4 separate regions of the Homo sapiens genome follow, and all the other regions are linked to region 1. The links come from fine-mapping of genetic effects on gene expression. A gene starts in region 1. Each other region holds a variant in brackets. All regions are shown on one strand. Distances are from middle to middle. Region 1 holds the start of PTPRS (protein tyrosine phosphatase receptor type S). Region 2 overlaps PTPRS (protein tyrosine phosphatase receptor type S). Region 3 overlaps PTPRS (protein tyrosine phosphatase receptor type S). Region 4 overlaps PTPRS (protein tyrosine phosphatase receptor type S).

The links. PIP is the estimated chance that this variant, and not a neighbour inherited with it, causes the effect.
Region 2: its variant is the best candidate, but not a certain one, in a credible set for the expression of PTPRS in skeletal muscle (GTEx, PIP 0.87).
Region 3: its variant is the best candidate, but not a certain one, in a credible set for the expression of PTPRS in fibroblasts (GTEx, PIP 0.89).
Region 4: its variant is the best candidate, but not a certain one, in a credible set for the expression of PTPRS in whole blood (INTERVAL, PIP 0.58).

Annotation. Positions count from the first base shown.
Region 1 is chr19:5,337,489-5,343,207 of GRCh38, forward strand. It overlaps PTPRS (protein tyrosine phosphatase receptor type S), which reads right to left and starts at 3,324. Exons shown (of 38, transcript NM_002850.4): 1 at 3,176-3,324. It overlaps LOC105372252 (a long non-coding RNA gene), which reads left to right. Exons shown (of 5, transcript XR_936279.3): 5 at 1-578. RefSeq lists an enhancer at 712-1,385 and a silencer at 3,252-3,531.
Region 2 is chr19:5,317,585-5,323,303 of GRCh38, forward strand. All of the region lies in intron 1 of PTPRS (protein tyrosine phosphatase receptor type S), which reads right to left. Among named protein-coding and RNA genes, the nearest start is that of PTPRS, 20 kb to the right of the region's middle. RefSeq lists enhancers at 2,106-2,607, 2,608-3,107, 4,631-4,900. The variant A/G (reference allele first, on the strand shown) is at 3,102.
Region 3 is chr19:5,305,946-5,311,664 of GRCh38, forward strand. All of the region lies in intron 1 of PTPRS (protein tyrosine phosphatase receptor type S), which reads right to left. Among named protein-coding and RNA genes, the nearest start is that of PTPRS, 32 kb to the right of the region's middle. The variant T/C (reference allele first, on the strand shown) is at 3,391.
Region 4 is chr19:5,262,670-5,268,388 of GRCh38, forward strand. It overlaps PTPRS (protein tyrosine phosphatase receptor type S), which reads right to left. Exons shown (of 38, transcript NM_002850.4): 5 at 2,339-2,527; 6 at 295-303. Among named protein-coding and RNA genes, the nearest start is that of PTPRS, 75 kb to the right of the region's middle. The variant T/A (reference allele first, on the strand shown) is at 2,734.

The DNA of each region.
Region 1 (5,719 bases):
CCCATCTTGGCAAGTGGAGGTGTGCGCTGCCCTCAGACATCTGTGAACCGCTGTTCAACGCCAACCCCGAAGGCAGAAGGGGAAACCAAGTCACCTCCCAGAAAGACGTTTGATGAGCAGAGATAGATTTGCCTCCAGACTGGTACCAGGTCTGGGGAAACCCAGGCAGAGCCCCAGGCTCTATGCGACCCAAAGAAGAAAAAAATGGGTGCACAGTGATGGCTCCAGGTCTCCCCACCCAGATGCTACCACGAAATCCCTGGCATCCACGAAGCTTCCCCCTGTTCCATGGTGGAAATTGGGGGAAAATGGACTTGTGTCTCCAAGCAGGGTCCATGGACACTGGACGATGCCTGAAATCCCCTGGGAGGCAGGGAAAAAAGGCGCACTGAACGCTCAACCGGGGTATAAGGAGTGATTTTTTTTTCTCTGCTGGCAGCAGGCAGGAACCTGGGGTTTGAATGTCCCCTTCTCTGTCGCCACCTCACGCAGACTTCAGAGGCTCTCAAGGTTTCCTGGAGAGGGGGAAATCGTCCCCGGAGCTGACCTGCCAACCAGTAGCACCCTCCAGCGCCTCAGCCGGGCCACGCCAAAATGACCTGTCACCCATCTCCCGCGGGGAGTGGGGAGCGGGCCAGTCCACCGCCTCTTGGGACGGCATCTCTGGACGGCCACTGACAGTACCAGTCTCTGTCACCCCCTGGGGGGTTAGGGGCAATGTCATCGGCCAGGGTGGCAGAAATAGAAAAGTGCGTGAGCTCACCAGGCAGCCTGGGTCTCCTGCGACGTTTTGTTTGCCTGAGCCCAATTAGAACAACTCTCAGGATGATGGAGTATGGCGGGCGGTGGCCCCCAGGGGGCTGGGAGGCCTAGCCCCCATGCAGAAGTGCACCGTCATGATGAGGGTGTCCCCCGGGCCTGGGGAACAGGGCAGGACCCTGCTTCCCGGAGGGAAATAATGAAGACTCCGCCAGCCTGCCAGCCAGAAAGAGATGCCCCACGGAAGGCTTTGTGGAGGGCAGCGGGGGGGTAGGGGAGGGATGCCCAGGTGGGGACTCAGTCAGGCCCAAGCTGGGGGGCTGTGGGATTTGAGGGCGGGAAGCAGCCGCCCCCAGCCCCAGCTGCCTGCCTTCCACCGCCAAAATATCAGCTGGCAAAGAAAGAAGAGCAGAGGGACAGAAGGCAGGCGCGATTGGCAGGGGGAGGGGGGCACAAAGGAAGGGACCCTGGGAGGGGGAGGGGACTTATGCAAATGGCAGATTCGACCAAGTCCCTGGGCCATTAATAAACGCTCCAGCAGCTGCCGCTGGTATCGCAGGAGCAGAGGAGCGGGATGGCTTCCTTCTCCCGGGCGAAAGGCGGCAGAAAGAGGGAAGAAGGGCGCCCCAGACAAAGAGGCGCCGTCACCCTCTGCACCCCAAGGACAGCAGCGATAGGGGGCCACCCAGAGGAGGCCAGAATCCCAGCAGCCAAAGTCCGGGTGGTGGCGGACGGGAGCCCGGAGCGTGTGGGTCCCTGTCCTTGGGACCCTAGGGGTCTCTTCCTGCCTCCTCCGGCTTCTAGGTATCATCCCTGCTGCTCAGCCGGGACTCCGACACCTCGGACACCCGCTTCACTAGCCGCGGCTGCCGGGATGTGTTTTTAGGGTCTCGGCCAGAGGCAGGAGGACCCCATGCTCAGAAGGGGGCTCCCCTAGATTGTGACGGGGGGGGACAGGGGAATCCCAGCTGAGCCCAGAAGGGGGAGGCAAGGCACCCCCAATGAGGCTCTGGGAGGTTTGTTAATTTGGGGGAATGAGGTCCCAGGAGGTGGCTGGATTTGAGGAAGGGTTGCAGAGGAAGGGGCGTTCTTGGAAGCTGCATATTTAGGGAGACGAGAAGACGATTTGAGACTGGGGAAAGAGGGTCAACCGAAGAAGGAGGTCCCAGATTTGGGGCGGGGGGTGTGGCTGAAAAAAAGATTCCCAGTTTGTGGGAAAGGTTCCCTGATTTGAGGATTCTGGAGAGAAAGCGGCCGAAGGGGAGTTCCCCAATTTGGGAAGGGGGGGAATTGGTGGGAAATGTCCAGGATTTGTAGGGGGAGGTCCGAAGGGGAGGATCTTAATTTTAGGAGAGATTCCCATAAAGAGAGGTGAACTTGGCCGCAACCTGGCCGAACCCTCGCACCCACGGCGCGGGCACTCTAACCTGGGGGGCTCCCCTCAGGGCACGCCCCGCGCCCCCTTTAACCCAGTGCCGACGGCCCCGCCCCCGGTATGACGTCACCTCCCCTCCCCCCGCAGCCCCCGGGGGCTCCCGGGGCGTGCGGAACCCGCGGGGCTGGCGGTTCCAGGGGCGGCTTCCCCACTCTCGGGATCCCCACGGGGCCCCCAGCGCGGAGGGGAGACTGGGGTGCTGGGCGTGCGCGTCTGCCTGCCAGAGCCCCTGGGGCTGGGGGCTGAGGCTCGCCCCTGGGTGGGGAGGCTGGAAGGGGGCGCCGAGGCCGCAGAAGGGTGGGGCAATGCCCGAGTGCCGGAGGGGCGACCTCCCATAAGGCAACGACAGGGCCCGGAGTGTTCCAGGGGAGACGGCGTAGACTAGGGGGTCTCCAGGGGAGGGAGACCCGGAGAGGGAAGGCGGCGGGCGCAGCAGCCCTGGAGCCACCCCGCCTGGAGCCACCCGTCCCGGCTCCTCTCCGCTCCGGGGCGCCCGCATGCCCCCCATCCCCCGGCACAGCGCCCCCTGCCTCCAGGACCCGCCCGGGGACCCGGGCCGGGCGCCGCCGGGGCCGGCACCGGCTCCGCACACACGCGCGCCCCCCTCCGCGCCTCTGCCCCGCCCGCAGCCCGGGGTGGTGCAGCCGGCGGCGCTGGGCAGCTTCCAATGCCGCGCTCTGGGCGCTTCCAGCCCAGCCCCCTCCCACGCCGCGGACGAAGCCCCCCCAGCACCCCCTGCCGAGCGCCCCCAGCGCGGCCCCGGCCCTGTCCCTCGGGGCATTGTCCGGGCGCAGCTACCGGGGCGCAGCGGCTGGGCGTGCAACTGGCTGCAGCCGAGCATCCTCCGAGCACAATGGCCGTGCAGGCTTCCCCGGCACAAAGCCGGCGCGCTGCCCACTCGGCTGCCTCCGAGACCCCCCTTGGAGCGCCTGCATTTTTTTTTCCTCTAATCCATGATTTTATTTTTTTTTTTGGCTTTACCTGGAGGCTGGCTGGGCTGGGCTCCCCCGGCTCTGCCCCGCTTCACATCGTGGCTGTTGCATGGGATCCGAGCGGAGCCCGAGCGCCAGCGGCTCGCGGCGTGCGCGCGCCGGCCGGGCTGCCGGGCGGGCGGCGCGAGGACACTCACTGCGGCTCGCGCTCCCCTAGCTCCCGCTCGCGCGCCCCCCCAGCCGGTGACGTCATCCCTTCCGCCAGCGCCGCCGCCGCCGCCGCCGGGTCGGGGGCAGGGCCGGCCCGTGCGCGTCACTGCGCAGCCGCGCGGCCGCCACGCCCCCCGGCCAATGGGACGGCGCAGCGCGGTCACGTGGCTCCGGGGTGTTTAAAGGGCCGCGGGAGCACGTGGGGCGCGGGGCTTCGCGGGACACGTGGGCGGCTGGGGTGGTGGTGGTGGTGGCGGCTGCGGCGGCGGCGGGAAGGGCCCCTGGGGCTACTGTCCGTGCGGGAGCCCCAGCGTCCTGGGTGCAAAGGGCATGGCACTTTCTGTGCGCTGCCCTAAACTGTGCCACGGCTCCCCAGTACCCTTGGAATAAAATCCCGCCTCCTCTCTGCAGCTCGCCGTTTCACATTAGCGCCCACTACCCTGTCCCCTCCCCCCCACCATGTCAATGATCCAGAAAAACCAGCTGCTCCTTCTTTGCTTTTTCAGAGATGGGGTCTGCCACCTGGGCCTCAGTACAGTGGTATGATCATAGCTCACTGCAGCTTCAAACTCCTGGGCTCAGGTGATCCTCCCGCCTCAGCCTCCTGAGTAGTTGGGCTCGGGTGATCCTCCCGCCTCAGCCAGCTTCTTACAGTTCCTCTAACTTGAGCATCCAAGAACTTCCCCTTCTCATCTTTCCAATTTCTGCTCAAATAAGCAGCGCCTGGGAGAAGCCCTCCCTGACAACAGCTACCAGCCACGCCCCACTCCACTCTATCCCATTATCCCGGTTTGTTGTTGTTGTTGTTGTTTGTTTGGTTTTGAGTCGGAGTCTCACTCTGTCGCCCAGGCTGGAATGCAGTGGCGTGATCGCGGCTCACTGTAACCTCCGCCTCCTGGATTCAAGCTATTCTCCTGTCTCAGCCTCCGGAGTAGCTGGAATTACAGGCGTGCTGTCACCACGCCTGGCTAATTTTTGTATTTTTGTTAGAGACAGTGTTTCACCATGTTGGCCAGGCTGGTCTTGAACTCCTGACCTCAGTGATCCGTCCACCTCGGCCTCCCAAAGTGCTGGGATTACAGGCGTGAGCCACCGCGCCTGGTCCCATTATCCCGTTTTTATTCTAGTTACACTACAGTGTGGCTCCAGAGATCCCTATTGTAGGTTGAACACATGAATGAATGGATGATGGAGCACTTCTTATAGAGTAAGCACTTTACACAGGTCTCACCTAATTACCATCCCCTGCTTCCCTGGAGTCAGGACGAGCCACAGTTGGAACCCAGCTAAAACACTGATTTGCTGTGTGAGGCCCGGAGCCTCACTTTCCCCATCTGTAGAATGGATTTGCCTCTGGATCTCAGCTCTCATCTGTAAAATGGGGCAAGGTAGCCCCTGCTCCTAAGGAGGGTGTGATGATGAATTGCTATAATGTGGCAGCCTGGCTGCCATTGGTGCCTGAAGATGGAATAATAAGAGAAAAGAGGCCGGGCCCGGTGACTCATGCCTGTAATCCCAGCACTTTGGGAAGCCAAGGTGGGCAGATCACTTGTCAGGAGTTCGAGACCAGGCTGGCCGACATGGCGAAACCCCATCTCTACTAAAAATACAAAAATTAGCCGAGCGTGGTGGCAGGTGCCTGTAGTCTCAGCTAGTTGGGAGGCTGAGGCAGGAGAAACTCTTGAACCCGGGAGGCGGAGGTTGCAGTGAACCAATATCACACCACTGCACACTCTAGCCTGGGCGACAGAGTGAGACTCTCAAAAATAAGGAAAAAAAACAGAGCGGAAGTAAATAAAAGGGGGATATTGACAAAGGTAAGGGGGTTGGAGGGCTCACAGCCACCAAGCAAGATTGCACATCAGTCCTTGTGTTTTGATCATGTCGAAAGCATTTATTTCCTCAAGGCACATATTTGGAGAAGGCCTGGTGCCCAACAGAGGAACTCAACTTTAGAATTGGTTTTTTTTTTCCTCCAAAATTGTTGATTCATTCATTCCAGGCCACAGATGCAGATAAACAAAAAGCATTAACCCGGGGAACAAAACGATAAGGCGGAAGTCATAAACAGGAGAAAAGAGAGGAGATAATGAATAATTTAACAAGGAACCTAATTTAAGCTTGGAGTTTCCCAGCGGCCAGTGCAGCAGCCACGTTTGCAGAGCCTACTTTGTTTTTCTTCCTGGTGGGGTGACCCTGATCTGACCGTTTACAATCTGGCCTCAGTTTTCTCATCCAAGCAATGGGAACACGATCCCATCTTGAAGGATCAAATGGGGTGGTCTGTGCACAAATGCTTAGCGTGGTTTCTCACGCACAGTGGGTGCTGAAGCCTTGGAGAATTGGTGGAGACACAGTAAAATGAGATGGCTGATCGTGGAGG
Region 2 (5,719 bases), 20 kb before region 1:
ACAGAATCCTAGATTTTCCACTGGTCCAGGTGGCTACTGACAGCACAAATTTTCCTAAAATAGGACAGGGCAGGGCAGGGCCCAAGCAAACATCTCAAATAAGAGAACCCAAACTCACATAGATCTTTAAAGTAAGAGGGTGGGGTGTGTGGCCCACCTAGAAATTAGTAAGGGGCCAGGTGCAGTGGTTCATGCCTGTAATCCCAGCACTGAGGCTGAGACAGGTGGATCACCTGCACTCAGGAGTTCGGGACCACCCTGGCCAACATGGTGAAACCCCGTCTCCATTAAAAATATGAAAATTAGGCCAGGCGCAGTGGCTCACGCCTGCAATCCCAGCACGTTGGGATGCCGAGGCGGGCGGACCATGAGGTCAGGAGATCGAGACCATCCTGCTTCACACGGTGAAACCCCGTCTCTACTAAAAATACAAAAAATTAGCTGGGCATGGTGGCAGGTGCCTGTAGTCCCAGCTACTCAGGAGGCTGAGGCAGGAGAGTGACGTGAACCTAGGAGGTGGAGGTTGCAGTGAGCCGAGATCACGCCACTGCACTCCAGCCTAGGCAACAGAGCGAGACTCCGTCTCCAAAAAAAAAAAAAATGAAAATTAGCCAAGTGTGGTGGCGCTTGCCTGTAGTCCCAGCTACTCTAGAGGCTGAGGCAGGAAAATCGCTTGAACCCAGGAGGCGGAGGTTGCAGTGAGCAAGATTGTGCCACTGCATTCCAGCCTGGGCAACAAGGTGAGACTGTCTCAAAAAAAAAAAAAAGAAGAAGAAGAAATGATGGAATGATGACCGTGAAATGCTGCGAGACGGAATGAGGACAGGACAGAACAGGCTGCACCCCAGCTAGGTCCAACAGCAAGGCAGTCTGGCCATGCTGTGTGACCCTGGGCAGGTGACTCGACTCTCTAGGCCTCAGTTTCCTCATCTGTAAAATGGGTATAAAAGTCTCTTCCTCCCCTCACATGGCTGCTGTGAAGACTGAATCGAAAGGCACACAGAGCTGTTCACACCACCTGAGAAGCAGCTGATAGACTGCAGATATTATCTTGGTGGTGGTTGTTATTATTTGTTTTTATTTTGAAAGACAGGGTCTCGCTCTGTCACCCAGACTGGAGTACAATGGTGAGATCACAGCTCACTGCAGCCTCAAACTCCTGGGCTCAAGTGATCCTCCCGTCTCAACCTCCCAAAGTGCTGGGATTACAGGCATGAGCCATTGGGCCCAGCTGATGTTATTTTTAAAAAAGTTTTTCCTGGCCTAGGCTGTCAGGGTGTCTAGCACCCTATTCCCCTTGAATTGCTAAGTGAGAGGCCCACACTGCAATCTCTTGATCTGTTTGTATTCTCCATTTAACAGACAGTGAGTCCCTGGAGGGCAAGGGCCTGGCCTGCCCTCCCCTCCATATTTGTCCCTGAAATTCTGAGTTCTGGAAACTTCTAATGGAAGGATCGAAGAGAAAGCATCAGCTCAGCCTGGCCACTAACCCCAGACATGGAAAGAAAAAAAGGAGGGATACTCTACCTTCAAAAGCCATCCCAAGGCCGGGCGCAGTGGCTCACATCTGGGATCCCAGCACTTTGGGAAGCCAAGGTGGGCAGATCACCCGAGGTCAGGAGCTCGAGACCAGCCTGACCAACATGGCAAAACCCATCACTACTAAAAATTAAAAAATTAGCCATGCGTGGTGGTGTGCGCCTGTAGTTCCAGCTACTTGGGAGGCTGAGGTAGAAGGATCACTTGAGCCCAGGAGGTGGAGGTTGCAGTGAGCTAAGATTGCACTGCACCACTGCAGTCCAGCCTGGACGACAGAGCCAGACCTTGTCTTTTTTTTTTTTTTTTTTTTAAAAAGCTATCCCAAATCCACTTGCTTCTTCTCCCCACCACCCACCTTTGCCTTCACCTGGTCCATCCCTGGCATCAACCATGAGTATCTGAGTCAGGTCCTGTCCCTCCTCTGCCCACAGCCCTCCATAGCTCCCACCTCTCTAGGGCTCAAAGCCCAGGGTTCTCCCTGCAGCCCACAAGACCCTACATGACCTATTGCCTCCTCTCCCCTCCCCATCACTCACTGGGCTCCAGCCACACAGGCCTCCTCGCTGTTCCTCCAACACGCCAGGCGTGGTCCTGCCCCGGGGCCTTGGCACACGCTGTGCCGTCTGCCTGGAATGCTCTTCCCCCACGTTATCTGCTTGGTTCCTCCTCACCTCCATCAGGGCTTTGCTCAAACATCACCTCCTCAATGAAGCCGTCCCTACAGCCCCATTAAAAATGACAACCCTCATGCCTCCCTCCCGAGTCCCCTTTGTTCCTTTACTGCTTTCTCTGATCACCCCTGACGTGCTATATATCGTATTTTGCCTATCATCTCTCTCCCTGATCCACAAAGCCATCCCCTTTATTGCTTCAGGGTCCCGGCACAGAGCCTGGTGGACAGGAGGCATCTGAGAAATCCCCCCAGATGATGGAAAGCGCAAAATCGGAGGCAGTGGCTGCGGCCAAAGCAGCCGCTGAGACCCCGGAGGCTGACGGCGGAAGCCTCCACGCCTACTCCAGCCGGGGCCTTCCTGTCCCTGTTGGCAAGCCAGGCCCCTGCCCTCTGCCATCCGGCGGCTCAACACCTGTTGTGACACAGCAGGAAGCAGGGGCGGCAGCCAGTGCCCGTGGCCTTGGCTGGACAGGTCCCTCCGGCAGGTTTAATCCCTGCCCCAGTGGGAGAGGGGGTACACGGACCTTGAAGCCAAACACACAGGCTGACACAAGCACCATCCACTTGGCTTATCCGGCTCCCGGGAAGTGGCCAGTGTAGGGACAAGCCTGATAAACATCTAGCAAATAAATGGATTTTTTCTTTTTTAATTGAGACGGAGTTCGCTCTGTCCCCCAGGCTGGAGTGCAGTGGTGTGATCTTGGCTCACTGCAAACTCTGCCTCAAACGATTCTCCTGCCTCAGCCTCCCAAGTAGCTGGGATTACAGGTGCACGCCACCATGCTGGGCTCTCATTTTTGTATCTTTTTAGTAAAGATGGGGTTTCGCCATGTTGATCAGGCTGGTCTTGAACTCCTGACCTCAGGCGATCTGCTCACCTCAGCCTCCC[A/G]AAGTGCTGGGATTACAGGCGTGAGCCACCACGTCCGGCCTGGATTTCTTTACAATCGTCACACTGTCCTCATGCTGAGCCCAGCCCTGATTTGAGGGCTTCACCCTATGAACTCACTAGATCCTCCCAAGGGAGCCTGGATGGTTGAGGTTATCATTATCCTCATTTTCCAGATGAGGAAACTGAGGCCCAGAGAGGTGGAGTCATTGCTACTAAGGGACAGAGCCATCTGGCCCTAGAATCTGGTTTTGGCCACTAATCAACACAGTCTCAACGAATGAGAAGAATAAAACAAGGGCCCGGTGCTGGCTCATGCCTGTAATCCCAGCACTGTGGGAGGCTGAGGCAGGAGGACCACTTCAGCCCAGGAGTTCGAGACCAGCCTGGACAACATAACAAGACCTTGTCTCTACAAAAAATTAAACAACAACAAAAAAATTAGCCAGGCATGGTGGTGTGCACCTATAGTCCCAGCTGCTCAGGGGGCTGAGGCAGGAGGGTCAACTGAGCCTGGGAGGTTGAGGCTGCAGTGAGCTATGATCATGCCACTGTACTCCAGCCTGGGCAACAGAGCAAGACCCTGTCTCAACAAAGAAAAATAAAAAGAATAAATCAAGGTAACAGGGAAATGTGAGTCACGTCTACGGAGCATTCCGACCTGGGGAAAAGGGCAGCTATGCTTCATCTCCCTGATGTCTCCCGACCCAGTGACATGGGCCCATTTTAGGGATGAGGAAAACTGAGTCCCTCAAGGGGGAAGCGATTTCCTGAAGGATCTACCGCCTAGAAGTGGCAGGCTCAGAGCTAATGCTAAATTCACTAAACCCTGACCCAGATCGACTACAGGGTCATTTTGTAGAGGCCTCAGTGCTGTAAGGAGTTTGGCTCGTGCCTCGTGAGTACCCACTGTGTGCCAGGCCCAGAGTGGAGAAGCCTCAGATGTCTCATTTCCAGACAGGTAAACTGAGACTGAGAAGTTCAGCTATTTGCCCAAGCCCTGAGATGTCCCCATTTTACAAACAGGTAAACTGAGGCTCAGAGAAAGAACCATTTATCCAAGCGCCAAAATTGTCTCCATTTCCAGATGGGTAAACTGAGGCTGGGAAGTTCAGCTATTTGCCCAAGCCCTGAGATGTCCTCATTTTACAAACAGGTAAACCGAGGCTTGGAGAAATAGAACCATTTATCCAAGCCCCAAAACTGTCTTCATTTCCACATAGGTAAGCTGAGGCTGAGTTCAGCTATTTGCCCAAACCCTGAGATGTCCCCATTTCACAAATAAACTGAGGCTCAGAGAAATTTAACCATTTATCCAAACCCTGAAATTGTCCCCATTTCCATTTGGGTAAACTGAGGCTCAGAGAGGTTTCAACAGTTGCCAGAGGTCACACAGCCGGCAAGAGGCAGCACTGAGCCTCAAATCTGAGGTTTCCTGACCTGACAGGGAACTGCAGGCCCCACGGTCCCCGCCTGAGCTGGCGTGAGCCTTTAGCGGAAGCCCTCCCCAGCTCTGCACAGCAGACACCCTCGCGGCCGTGCCTTGCTGGAGTATCCACAGTGACACACAGCCCTGTTGGTGGCTGGGCTTTTTCAGGCTTAAAAGGGAGGTAATATCACCTAACACCAGCTATATTTTTAAAAACCCCACAGCACTCAGGAGGCTGGCCCGTCAGCGCAGCACCACGTCCGTGGGCAGGCAGAGGCCCCGGAACTCGAGGACGTGGCTATTTTAAAGGGGCTATTTCTGGAGGCTGAGGTGAGAATGCGGGGGTGGGAGGAAGAAGCAGCCGCGGGGACCGACTCGAGCCCGCCCCGACTGGCCGACTCCCGGGTTGGGGGTGGTTAAAAGCAAGAACGTGGAAGCCACCTGCTCCCCGCAAGCACTGCCTCCAGCCCGCAGAAAGACCTCAGGCGGCCGGGCGCGGTGCTCATGCCTGTCATCCCAGCACTTTAGGAGGCTGAGGCGGGCGGATCACCTGAGGCAGGGAGTTCGAGACCAGCCTGACCAACATGGTGAAACCCTGCCTCTACTAAAAATACAAAATTAGCCGGGCATGGTGGCGCACGCCTATAATCCCAGCTATTCGAGAGGCTGAGGCAGGAGAATCGCTTGAACCCGGGAGGTGGAGGTTGCAGTGAGCCAAGATCGTACCATTGCACTCAAGCCTGGGCAACAAGAGCAAAACTCCGTCTCAAAAAAAAAAAAAAAAAAAAAGAAGAAGAAGAAGAAGAAAAAGAAAAAACAGACCTCATGCATTTCAGAGCCTCATTTCTTCCCCTGGGAAGAGCTGCTTAGGCAAAATGTATGCCTGGAGCCCTACTGTGTGCAGATGCTGCCATGGACATGGTAGAGGAGGAGAGAAGCAGATAATGAGTATGAAGCATTCGAGGCTGGGAGAGGTGGCTCACGCCTCTAATCCTGGCACTTTGGGAGGCCGAGGAGGGCAGATCATTTGAGGTCAGGAGTTTGAGACCAGCCTGACCAACATGGCAAAACCCCATTTCTACTAAAAATACAGAAAAATTAGCTGGGCATGGTGGCACATGCCTGTAATCCCAGCTACTCAGGAGGCTGAGGCAGGAGAATTGCTTCAATCCGGGAGGCAGAGGTTGCATGA
Region 3 (5,719 bases), 32 kb before region 1:
AAAAAAAAAAAAAAAAAAAAAAAAAGGGCGAATTCCTCATGCCTGGAACAGAGAGAACCAGCAGCACAATAGGTACAAATACTTGAGGAAGGGAGGGAGTCCCTCTAATGCTCCCCTGGAAGCAACCTCTGCCATTACCATCTATCTTTGTGTCTTTTTCTCATGAAGTTATTGATCAAAGGTAACTCTAGAATACAGGGTGATTTTTTTTTTTTTTGAGACGGAGTCTCACTCTGTCACCCAGGCTGGAGTACAGCGGCACAATCTCAGCTCACTGCAACCTCCGCTTCCTGGGTTCCAGTCATTCTCCTGCCTCAGCCTCCCGAGTAGCTGGGATCACAGGCGTGCGCCACCACGCCTGGCTAATTTTTGTATTTTTAGTAGAGACGGGGTTTCACCATGTTGGCCAGGCTGGTCTCATGCTCCTGACCTCAAGTGATACGCTGGCCTCGGCCTCCCAAAGTGCTGGGATTACAGGCATGAACTACCACACCTGGCCCAGGGTGATTTTTTTTTTGTATGTGAAAATGATATTCTGTTCGAATCATGGCTGTTCCTCACATGACTTGTAACTACTGAGCACACGCAGCCCAGGCCTCTTCTCGCCTGTGGTAGGATCTTCCGTGGCAAGGCTGTGCCTTGGGCGTTTATCACCCAATTCCCTGTGGACACTTCGGTTGCCTCCATTTTTTCCCAACCTCACCCAATGCCATGGTGAATCTCCATGCTGACATCTCCCAGGTCCCCTTGGGGAAGCATTTTTGTCTCTCACTGGTGTCCAGTGAAGGGCAGCTGGGGTGGAAGGTCGGGTTACAGCTTGTTCTAAACAAGCAGGTTCCCCTCCTACACAGTCGGAAATGAGTAGGTCCTAATAGTCCCCGAGGAGACAATTGGCTATTATCTTCCGAAGTTAAGTTTATACATTCCCTTTAGGCCTGATAACACCACCTCTAGAAATCTACCCGGCAGACACTTTCCCGTGAAATGACACGTGGAGAAAGTACTCACGGCAAAAGGCTTGAAGCAACCTGAATGTCTATCGATAGGAGATTGGTTAAGTAAAGAACAGTACAAGGGGGCCAGGCACAGTGGCTCACGCCTGCAATCCCAGCACTTTGGGAGGCTGAGGCAGGAAGATCACCTGAGGTCAAGAATTCGAGACCAGCCTGGCCAACATGGCAAAACTCTGTCTCTACTAAAAATACAAAAAAAATTAGCCAGGTGTGGTGGCCGGCACCTGTAATCCCAGCAACTCGGGATGCTGAGGCAGGAGAATTGCTTGAACTCAGGAGGCAGAGGCTATAGTGAGCTGAGATCATGCCATTGCACTCTAGCCTGGCCAATAAAAGCGAAACTCCATTTCAAAAATATAAATACATAAATGAATGAATGAATAAATAAATAAAAATAACAGTACAAGAGGTCAAATAATGATCGAAGAGATTAGTATCTTAGTGTTATGAGATCAGTATCTCTTAGTGTTATGAGATCAGTATCACAGCTGTGAAAAGGAATGAGAATACCAGATGTACAATTATAAAATTACTTTTAAGATACTATATTTTTAAGTGGGGGGGAAGAAAACAAGGTACAGAACAGCATGTAGAAGATGCTGCCATTTGGTTAAACAAGGGAATATAAATCCAGCCGCCTACTAAATGTTCACAGAAGATTTCTAGATAAACTGCGCTCTTCAAAACCGTAGCCACGAGCCGTATGTGGCTGTTTAAATTTAAACGGAATAAAATGGAATAAAATTTAAAATTCAGTTCCTCGGTTGCACTGGACACATTTCAAACGCTCAATAGCCACATTCGGCTCAGGGCGACTGTACCACGGTGCGTAGACGGAGACCATTTTTATCATCGCCATATCGGGGGCCAAATCCGGCCCACCGTTTGTTTTTATAAATAAAGCTTTATTGGCACATAGCCACGCCCACCAGTTTACGTGTTTGTCTATGGCTGCTTTCACGCTCCAATGGCGGGGTTGAGTAGTAGACAGAGATCATCCGGCCGGCAAAGCTGGAAAGATTTACAAGGTGGTCCTTTATGGAAAAACTCTACTGACCCTGTTCTGGGAAGAGACTGCTACTGGGGAAAGAGAGAGGGGAGAGGATCTGGAGATTCTCCACCATGCATTTTTCTCTGCATCCTCAATTGTATCCCATGTGTACGCATTCTCTGGCCAGAACAACATATTAAAAATAAAAGACGTGGTGTCACAGAGATGCCGATTTCTTCTCCTGCCAGCCACGCCCGGAGGGCCTGGTTCCCCTCGACGCTGCCACCCTGGATAATACCACACTTCAAACAGTTTTGCTAAATGGATGGGTGAGAAATGATATCTTGTTTTAATTTGCATCTCCTGGGCAGGAGATGGGAACTCTTTAACTATAGATAAATGCCCGTCTAATCATCCATCGTCCCCCCAGACTCCTTAAGGGCAAGGATTGTCTGCATCAGTCACTATAGTGTCCCCAGTCCCAGCATGGGGCCAAGCAAACAGCTGAAGCCCAGTACATCCACACGGAAGAGAGGGAATCAGGCCCAGGGCAGCAGCCACAGTGCAAGGCCTGGGCTAGTTGTGGCTGGTGGTGAGCATCGAGTGCCAAGCCAAGCTTCACCGACGCAGTCACAGGGGCAGACTCCATGCGGCAGAGGTGGCTGCCAGCCCCTCGGGGAACCTGCAGACTCACGTTCAGCAGTGGGGGAAGAGAGCAGGGTGGGCAGGGACCTGGCAGCCTTGGGGGTAGGGGAACTGTGGGCTCCAGGCGGGGAGAGAGATTATATATTCATCAGAATCTTAAACAAAAGCCCCGCAGCCGCCTGTCAGCCAGGCTATGGCTTTTATGGTAATCAGCAATGAATTACCCACAATGCCTGGCCAAGCGCAAGTGGTTCTTGGCCCGGATCCTAAACTAATTTTTGTATGTTCGTGTGTATATAATTTTGCTCGCTCCCTCCCGTTCCTCTCCCTTCATTACCAGGAGCACGGGTGGGGTACGGGGCAGGGAGGCAAAAGGAACCCTGGGTGTAGAAGTGGAGGATGCTCACCAAGACCCCCTGGCCCTACAGCCTGCCTGGCACTAGGCCCTGGGCTCAGAGTGTGTGGAGGTGGGAGGTGAGTGCCAAGTGGGAACTGAGGGGAGCCTGGAAACCACCAAAAACTGGAGCTGGCAGCTCCGGGGGTGGAGAGAGAAGGGAGGAAGGGGGGGTTGGCTGGCTCTGGTGGTGAGCAGAGTGTGCAGGCCCCTTAGTGGGGTTGAGCCTGTGCCACGTGCTGTGTGGCCTTGGGCAAGTGCCTTAACCTCTCTGGGCTTCAGCCCCCTGGTCTGCAAATTAGACCTCCCTTCCTGTCCTAACCTCTAGCCCCATCCAGCCCCAAGTG[T/C]GTAGCCCACAGCCCCTCCCAGGGCCCTGTCTATGCAGGCCACTCTCTAAGTGCTTGACGCATATTAACTCGTTTTGTTGTGCCAGTTATTTATCTCAGATGGGGAAACTGAGGCTGAGGATAGGATGTGCCTTGTCCAGAGCCAATGGCTTGCTTGTAGCACCTGAAAACCCGCTATGGGCTAAGTCAGGAGCTGCCAACTCCATGTCTCCAGGGAGAACCAGCCCACCACTTCCTGGGAACCTCCGCAGGCGTCCTGCTAATGGGGGCGTTTCCATGCCTGCCTCTCTCACCATCTTCGCCACCTCAGCTCATCTTCTCCGTCTTTACCGATGTTCAGGACAGAGGCCTGGGAGTCGTTCTTGACTCATCTCAACCCTACCCTGCAGCCAACCACTTGGAGAAGCCAGCCAACCCTTCTGCAAAATCCTTCTAGAATACAACCCCTCCTCTGCCCCTGCCTGGTCCACCCCCATCATCCCTGGCCTGGATCTGTGCCGTCCCCTCTGCTCTGGTCCCCCAGCGTCTGCACTCATCCCCCACAGTCTGTCCTTTCTGCAACAGCCAGGGGTCGCCTGTGAACACGTCGGTCAGGGCTGGTTCCTCCTTTGCCCATAGCCCTCCCTGGCTCCCACCTCCCTCAGAGTAAACGCCCAAGTCCTCCTGGTGCCCCACAAGGGCCTGCACAACCTGCTCTGTCCTCTCCCTGCTCTCCCCTCCCCTCCTCCCCCTCCTCACTCTGCTCCAGCCACACAGGCCTCCTCGCTGTTCCTCCAACATGCCAGGTGCGGTCCTGCCTCAGGGCCTTTGCACGGGCTGTGCCCTCTGCCTGGAACACCCTCCCCTCAGATGTCAGCAAACATCATTCTCTTATTCCTGTTGGTCTTACTGAAATGTCACCTCTTCTGTGAGGCCTGTCTTGATTCTGTAGCTAAAACAGCCCCTCCCTGCCACCAACCAATTCCTCTAGCTTTTTTCTTTTCTTTTTTTTTTTTTTTTTGAGATGGAGTCTTACTCTATCACCCAGGCTGGACTGCAGTGGCGCAATCTCGGCTCACTACAACCTCCGCTTCCCCCGTTCAAGCAATTCTCCTGCCTCAGCCTACCGAGTAGCTGGGATTACAGGCGCCCACCACCATACCCAGCTAATTTTTGTATTTTTAGTAGAGACAGGGTTTCACCATGTTGGCCAGGCTGGTTTCAAACTCCTGACCTCAAGTGATCTGCCCACCTCGGCCTCCCAAAGTGCTAAAATTGCAGGCATGAGCCACTGCGCCTGGCCAACTTTATTTTTCTTAAAGGCATGGCATACAGTCAATCCTTAACACATATTTAATCTATTGGCTTTATGGCTTTTGTTTTTTGGGTGTTTCTTGTTTTTGTTTTTTGAGGCAGGGTCTCACTCTGTCACCCAGGCTGGAGTGCAGTGACGCAATCTCAGCTCACTGCAGCCTTGAACTCCTCAGCTCAAGTGATCCTCCCACCTCAGCCTCCTGAGTAGCTGGGACTATAGGCTTGTACCACCACACCCGGCTAATTTTTGTATTTTTATTTATTATTATTATTATGAAACCAAGTCTCACTTTGTCTCCAGACTGGCGTGCAGTGGCGTGATCTCACTGCAACCTCTGCCTCCCTGGTTCAAGCGATTCCCCTGCCTCAGCCTCCCGAGTAGCTGGGACTATAGGTGCATGCCACCACGCCCAGCTAATTTTTTTTATTTAAGTAGAGACGGGGTTTTACCCTGTTGGCCAGGATGGTCTCGATCTCCTGACCTCGTGATCCACCTGACTCGGCCTCCCGAAGTGCTGGGATTACAGGCATGAGCCACTGTGCCCAGCCTTTTGTATTTTTAGTAGAGATGAGATTTCACCATGTTGGCCAGGCTGGTCTCGAACTCCTGACCTCAGGCGATCTGCCCGTCTTGGCCTCCTAAAGTGCTGGGATTATAGGCTGAGCCACTGCGCCCGGCCCCTATTTGTTCATTGTCCTTCTGATGCATTCCACGAGGGAAGGGTTTTTCCCTCTGTCTTCTCCGTCACTCTGTTCCCAACACCTGACCCTGTGAGGATCAGGGCCTGGTATATAGGAGGTGCTCAATAAGTATCCAGTGATGGAGCTCTAGGCCCCCAGCAGGGTCCTGGGCCCAGAAAGGACACGACGGTTGTTTTCTGAACACACAGAAGCTTTCCTTGGGGTCTGAAGGAAAATTTTAGACCTGAAACCATCCCCTGGGTGGAGGCTGGGGGTGGGGATATAAGTATCTTGGGAGCAGCCAAGGAAAGAAAAAGAACATTCCTGTCTCATCAAAGCTGTTCAGGGGAGACCC
Region 4 (5,719 bases), 75 kb before region 1:
GCCTGCATTTTGAGGTCTGCCTGGCCTTGTCTCTTTTCCTCTTTTCCTTTGGGTGGACTTGTCTCTTTTCCTCTTTTCCTTTGGGTTTCTTTCTCTGCCGCACACTAGTGCCAGCTGGGGAGGGCTGAGGGGCCGGTCGCGGGGAGGAGGGAGAGGGCGTTAGTAAACATACCAGGCAGAGTGGGTCACAGTTACCATCACGGTGGCTGTTAGTTTGGTGAGGAGAAGGGGAGCAGAAGGGGCACAAAGGGGATGGGGCGTTAGTTGTTGACGTGGTGATGAAATCAGACTTACCAAAGGTTTCTGAACGTTTACAACAGGAGGATAAGAAAAGAGAACAGGAACGTTAACGGGTGGTTACAAAGAATCCTATGTCCTCAGCGAGGAGGGGAGGGCGGGGGAGGGGAGGGGGACGCTCAGAATAATAATAACAACATTTCTTATGATTCCTAAAGTGGCTTATGTTCACTGAGCACCTAGCAGGCGCTAGACATTCCATCCTGGAGAGGTCACCAGAACACAAGGAAAATAGGCATGTTTTATGGGGAAACTGAGGCCACCGCTCCCCCTGCTTGCAGAGGCCTATGAGCTGCAAACATCCTCAGCCAGGCTGGGAGATAGGAGGCGATTTGTCCCCCCAGTGTGAGGTCTGAGTCTCTCCAAGGAAGACATTCTGGGCTCCACGTCTGATCTTTTTGGGGCTTGGTTTTCACTAAGGAGGAGGAGCAGAAAGCGGAGAACAGGTAGGTAGGCTCTTTGGTGGGGGGCAACGATGGGCAGTGAGTGAGGGGCGCTGGGGATGATTCGGGGAGGTACTGCTGCAAAGGGGGCTCCGTGGCGGGATCCTCGGAGGAAGGGGAGAGAGAAAGCAAAAAGAGGGGTGTGTGGAGGTGCAGGGTGATCTCAACAGTGACCTGAACGAAGGCAGGGCGTCAAGCCCGGCACAACTGAAAACAGTAAATCCGTGACACAGACAAACACGCATGTGCAGCCACACGTGTGCTCCCAATGTATGGAGACACATCCCCACCACGTGTGTCCCCACGCACGAGCACTAGGGAGGTGCAGGCTGAGAGGCGCGTGCGCGGATCACTGCCCTGTGTGCACAGGCACGGGAGTGACTGCAATGTGGGTGCACGTGTGGCCGAGATGCAGGCGGACACTTTGCTCCGGGCGGGGGAAGGGAGGCCCGTGTGTGACAGCAGCCAGGCCTGCACACCTGTGCCCACAGGCGGGAGGCAGGCCAGGCCGGCACAGGGAGCCCAGACATGCACACGTGGACATGTCGTGAAGCGGGGGGACAACACACACGCAGACACAGCCCCCCAGACAGATGGACCCACAGATGGGCCATGTGGGTGCTTTGTGGAGACACAATGGTGGAACCACCCGTCTCCAAGGCTCTGTCCCAAGGTCTCCCTAGCCCAGCCAGGGCCTGAACAGACAGGCTGGACTGCCCGTCTGTGCCCCCTTACAGACCTGAAGCCCCGCCATCACCTCTTACTGCTCAGCCTTGGAGAGACTCTCTCCCTGTAGTTTTCTATGGCTCCCCATCACCTTACTTGTCACCTCTGGACACCTGCCATTGCCTTACACAGCTTCCACTACTCCTGCCTGTCTGGGCCCCACTGTATTCTCACTGGACGTGCCTAATGCTTCTGTAGAGGATGCTCTCTGCCACCTTCCATAGCTCCCTATTACATACCCATTGAAGCTGGTCTCCCCTTGTCACCCTCCATGGCTCACTGACACTTCTGCCTGTCTGTCTCCCATTGCTTGGGCACTGCCGATACCCACCATCCTTGGCGGCTTTCTTTCTTTTCAGAGATGAGCGTCTTGCTACATTGCCCATGCTGGTCTCAAACTCCTGGCCTCAAGCAAGCCTTCTGCCTTGGCCTCCCAAAGAGCTCGGATTACAGGCATAAGCCACTGCGCCCAGCCCCCTCAGTGGCTTCCTATCACCCACAACTGTCTGTGGGTGACAGCTGTGATCTCACTGCCTGAGCATGGGAGACACTCTCCCCGCCCATGGCCCTATATAACTCCCCATCCTTGTGCATGTCTGCATCCATTATATCTTCATTGGCCAGGTGTTGAAGCACTATTCTTCTACCACCCTCTATAGCTCTCCAGTACTCATGCCCATCTGTGCCCCCTAATATCCTCAGTGTGCGGCTTTGAAGACATTTGCCCCCACTCCCCCAGAGCCAACGCCTGCCACGGCCACACACTGTCTCTGTCTGTCCTCCAGTAGTCCCCAGAACTTGGGCCCTGGAGATGCTCCCCACCCCCTGCTGCCCTCCAAGGCTCCCACGTCCTGTCAGCCACCCTCACTCACCTGATCGCAGCTGTTTGATGCGTCCATTGCTGGCACTAGGATCCACAGGCAGGAAGTCCTTGAACCAGGTGATCTCAGGGTCAGGGTTGCCGCTGGCTGCACAGAGCATGGTGGCTGTCCGTGTCCGCTCCACCACCTTCAACTGTGGGCCCATGTCGATGTTGGGGAAGCCAGAGGGCAGCTGGTCCTCTGAGGGCAGAGACGTGAGAGAAATGGGCATGGTTCTGAGCACTGCACAGCCACTCCTGAGCCTGGGGCTCAGGGACTGCCTGGCCACGGGTCCAGCTCCTCCCTGGCTGCGTGACCTCAGCCATGGGTGCCATCCTTTACAGCCAGTTCTCTCTCTTTTTTTGAGACAGGGTCTTGCTCTGTTGCCCAGGCTGGAGTACAGTGGC[T/A]CGATCATAGCTCACCGCAGTCTCAACAACCTGGGCTCAAGTGATCCTCCTGCCTCAGCCTCCTGAGTAGCCGGGACTACAAGCATGCGCCACCACGCCTGGCTAATTTTTAAAATTTTTGTAGAGAGGGGGTCTCGCTGTGTTGTCCAGGCGGGTCTCAAACTCCTGGCCCCAAGCAATCCTCCCACTTCTGCCTCCCAAAGCACTGGGATTGCAGGCATGAGCCACTGCACCTGGTTGGGTCCCTCTTCTGTACAAGGGGGAGGCTGGTGTCAGGGAGCTGAGCCAGGTAGAATGATATTTCTCACTGGGGGGTGACTCTGCTGCCCTGGGAGACACTGGGCGATGTCTGGGGATATCTGAGGTTGTCACAACTTGGGGGTCAGGACTTGGGGGTGGGTGCTCCTGGAATGGACTGGGTGGGGCTGAGAGATGCTCTACACCCTACTACATATAAGCACAAACCTGGCCCCAAGGTCCACAGTGCTGAGTGGGTTCATTTACAGCAGCCTGAGGACGCCTTTCTTTTTATCTTTTAAAAAATTTTTAAACAGAGAGATATATACATATAAATCAGCTGGACGCGGTGGCTCATGCCTGTAATCCCAGCACTTTGGGAGGCCGAGACAGGTGGATCACTTAAGGCTAGGAGTTTAAGACCCAGCCTGGCCCACATGGTGAAACACTGTCTCCATTAAAAACAAAAACTAGCCGGGCATGATGGTGCATGCTTGTAATCCCAGCTACCCGGGAGACTGAGGCAGAAAAATCACTTGAACCCGGGAGACGGAGGTTGTGGTGAGCCAAGATCACGCCACTGCACTCTAGCCTGGGCGACAGAGTGAGACTCGGTCTCAAAAAAAATCAAACTAAAAATAAAAATAAAATAAATAAAATATAGAGATAGGGTCTCACCATGTTGCCCAGATTGGTCTCGACCTCCTGGGCTCAAGGAATCCTCCCACCTTGACCTCCCAAAGCATTGGGATTACAGGTATTTTACAGGTATGAGCCACTGTGCCTGGCCCAGAGGACACCGTTTTTATTTTTTATTTATTTATTTTTTTTGAGATGGAGTCTCACTCGTCGGCCAGGCTGGAAGGCAGTGGCATGCACTCCACGCCCGGCTAATTTTTGTACTTTTAGTAGAGAAGGGGTTTTGCCATGTTGGCCAGGCTGGTCTCGAACTCCTGACCTCATCATCCACCTGCCGTGGCCTCCCAAAGTGCCTGGATTACAGGTGTGAGCCACAGCCCCACCTGCCTTTCTAAACATAAACCACACTGCTCCCCCGCTGTACACCCTTCTGTGGTCCGGCCACCCTCAGAAGGAACCCTGCCTGCTTGCCCGCTGCTGGCCCCTGCCACCTTCCCTCCTCTTTTTCTCTCTGGCCCAGTCACCCTGGCCTCCACGGCTCTCAAAGTCATCAAGCCCCCTCCCTCGGGTCACCTGTTCTGTTCCCTCAGCCTGGAATCCCCGTTCCCACATCTGTCTACTGATCGGAACACCACCTGGGACTAGCTCCAACTCCCTTGCTCTAAATGCCCCCACACTCCTCACTCTCCTCTGCAGCAGGGAATTCTATCTGTAACGGTGCATCTGTGTCACCACAGCATCCGTAGCACCCAGCGCAGAACCGGGCATACAGTAGGAGCTCAATCAATGAACAAACAACTCAATCCTGGTTGAGCACTCAATCCTCCAGCACCAGGTGAGTGAGTGGCACCAGGTCTCCAGCGCTCGGTATCCCTCTTGGGTGGTGAGGTTCTGGCTCCCCTCCATGGTAAATGGAGACCGGTGGTGATGTGGGGGCGGGGGGGAGCGGGGACAAGGAGGAGAAACTCAGGTCCCTGGAATCTCCTGGTCCCAGAGCTCCCTGAGCGGTGGGAACATGCTTCTGGGCTGAGGTGATGAGGTGAGCCAGCTAAGTGACGGGCTGCCTTGCATCCAGGGTGCTCTACAAACCAAGATGGGCCGGCCGTGGGGGCTCACACCTGTAATCCCAGCACTTTGGGAGGACGAAGCAGGTGGATCACCTGAGGTCAGGAGTTCGAGACCAGCCTGGCCAACATGGTGAAACCCCGTCTCTACTAAAAATACAGAAATTAGCCAGGCATGGTGGCGGACGCCTGTAATCCCAGTTCCTTGGGAGGCTGAGGCAGAAGAATCGCTTAAACCCAGGAGGTGGAGGTTGCAGTGAGCTGAGATCATGCTACTGCACTCCAGCCTGGGCGACAGAGCAAGACTGTCTCAAAAAAAAAAAAAAAAGAGATTAGGAAACAGCCACGTAGGGCAGACTAATAACCGTGCCCCCCCGCCCCCCCAACTCCACTCCAACGGACAAGTGACAAAAAAGTGACAAATCGCAGTGCTGTTAAGACCAAGAAATAGGCAGCTCCTCTGCATCTGGTAGGAATGCTGGAGTGGAGGGGGTAAAGGGCCGCAAAAACAGCCCTGTAGCTGTATTTATTAATAAAGTTTTATCAGCCGGGCACAGTGGGTCACGCCTATAATCCCAGCACTTTGAGAGGCCGAGGCAGGTGGATCACGAGGTCAGGAGATCGAGACCATCCTGGTGAACATGGTGAAACCCCGTCTCTACTAAACTACAAAGAAGATTAGCCGGGCTTGGTGACGGGCACCTGTAGTCCCAGCTACTCGGGAGGCTGAGGCAGGAGAATGGCGTGAAGCCGGGAGGCGGACTTTGCAGTGAGCAGAGATCGCGCCACTGCACTCCAGCCTGGGCGACAGAGCAAGACTCCATCTCAAAATAAATAAATAAATAAATTAATTAATTAATTAAATAAAGTTTTATTGGCACACAGCCACGCCCATTCGTTTCTCAGCTTTTCCAACACAATGGCAGAGTTTTGGGTTGTTGCTGCGACAGAGACCGTCCAGCCTGTAGAGCCAAAAATATTTACTTCCTGGTGGTCTGGAGAAAAAGTGTGCTGCTTCCTGGCGTAGACAATGTTTCTGTTTGTTT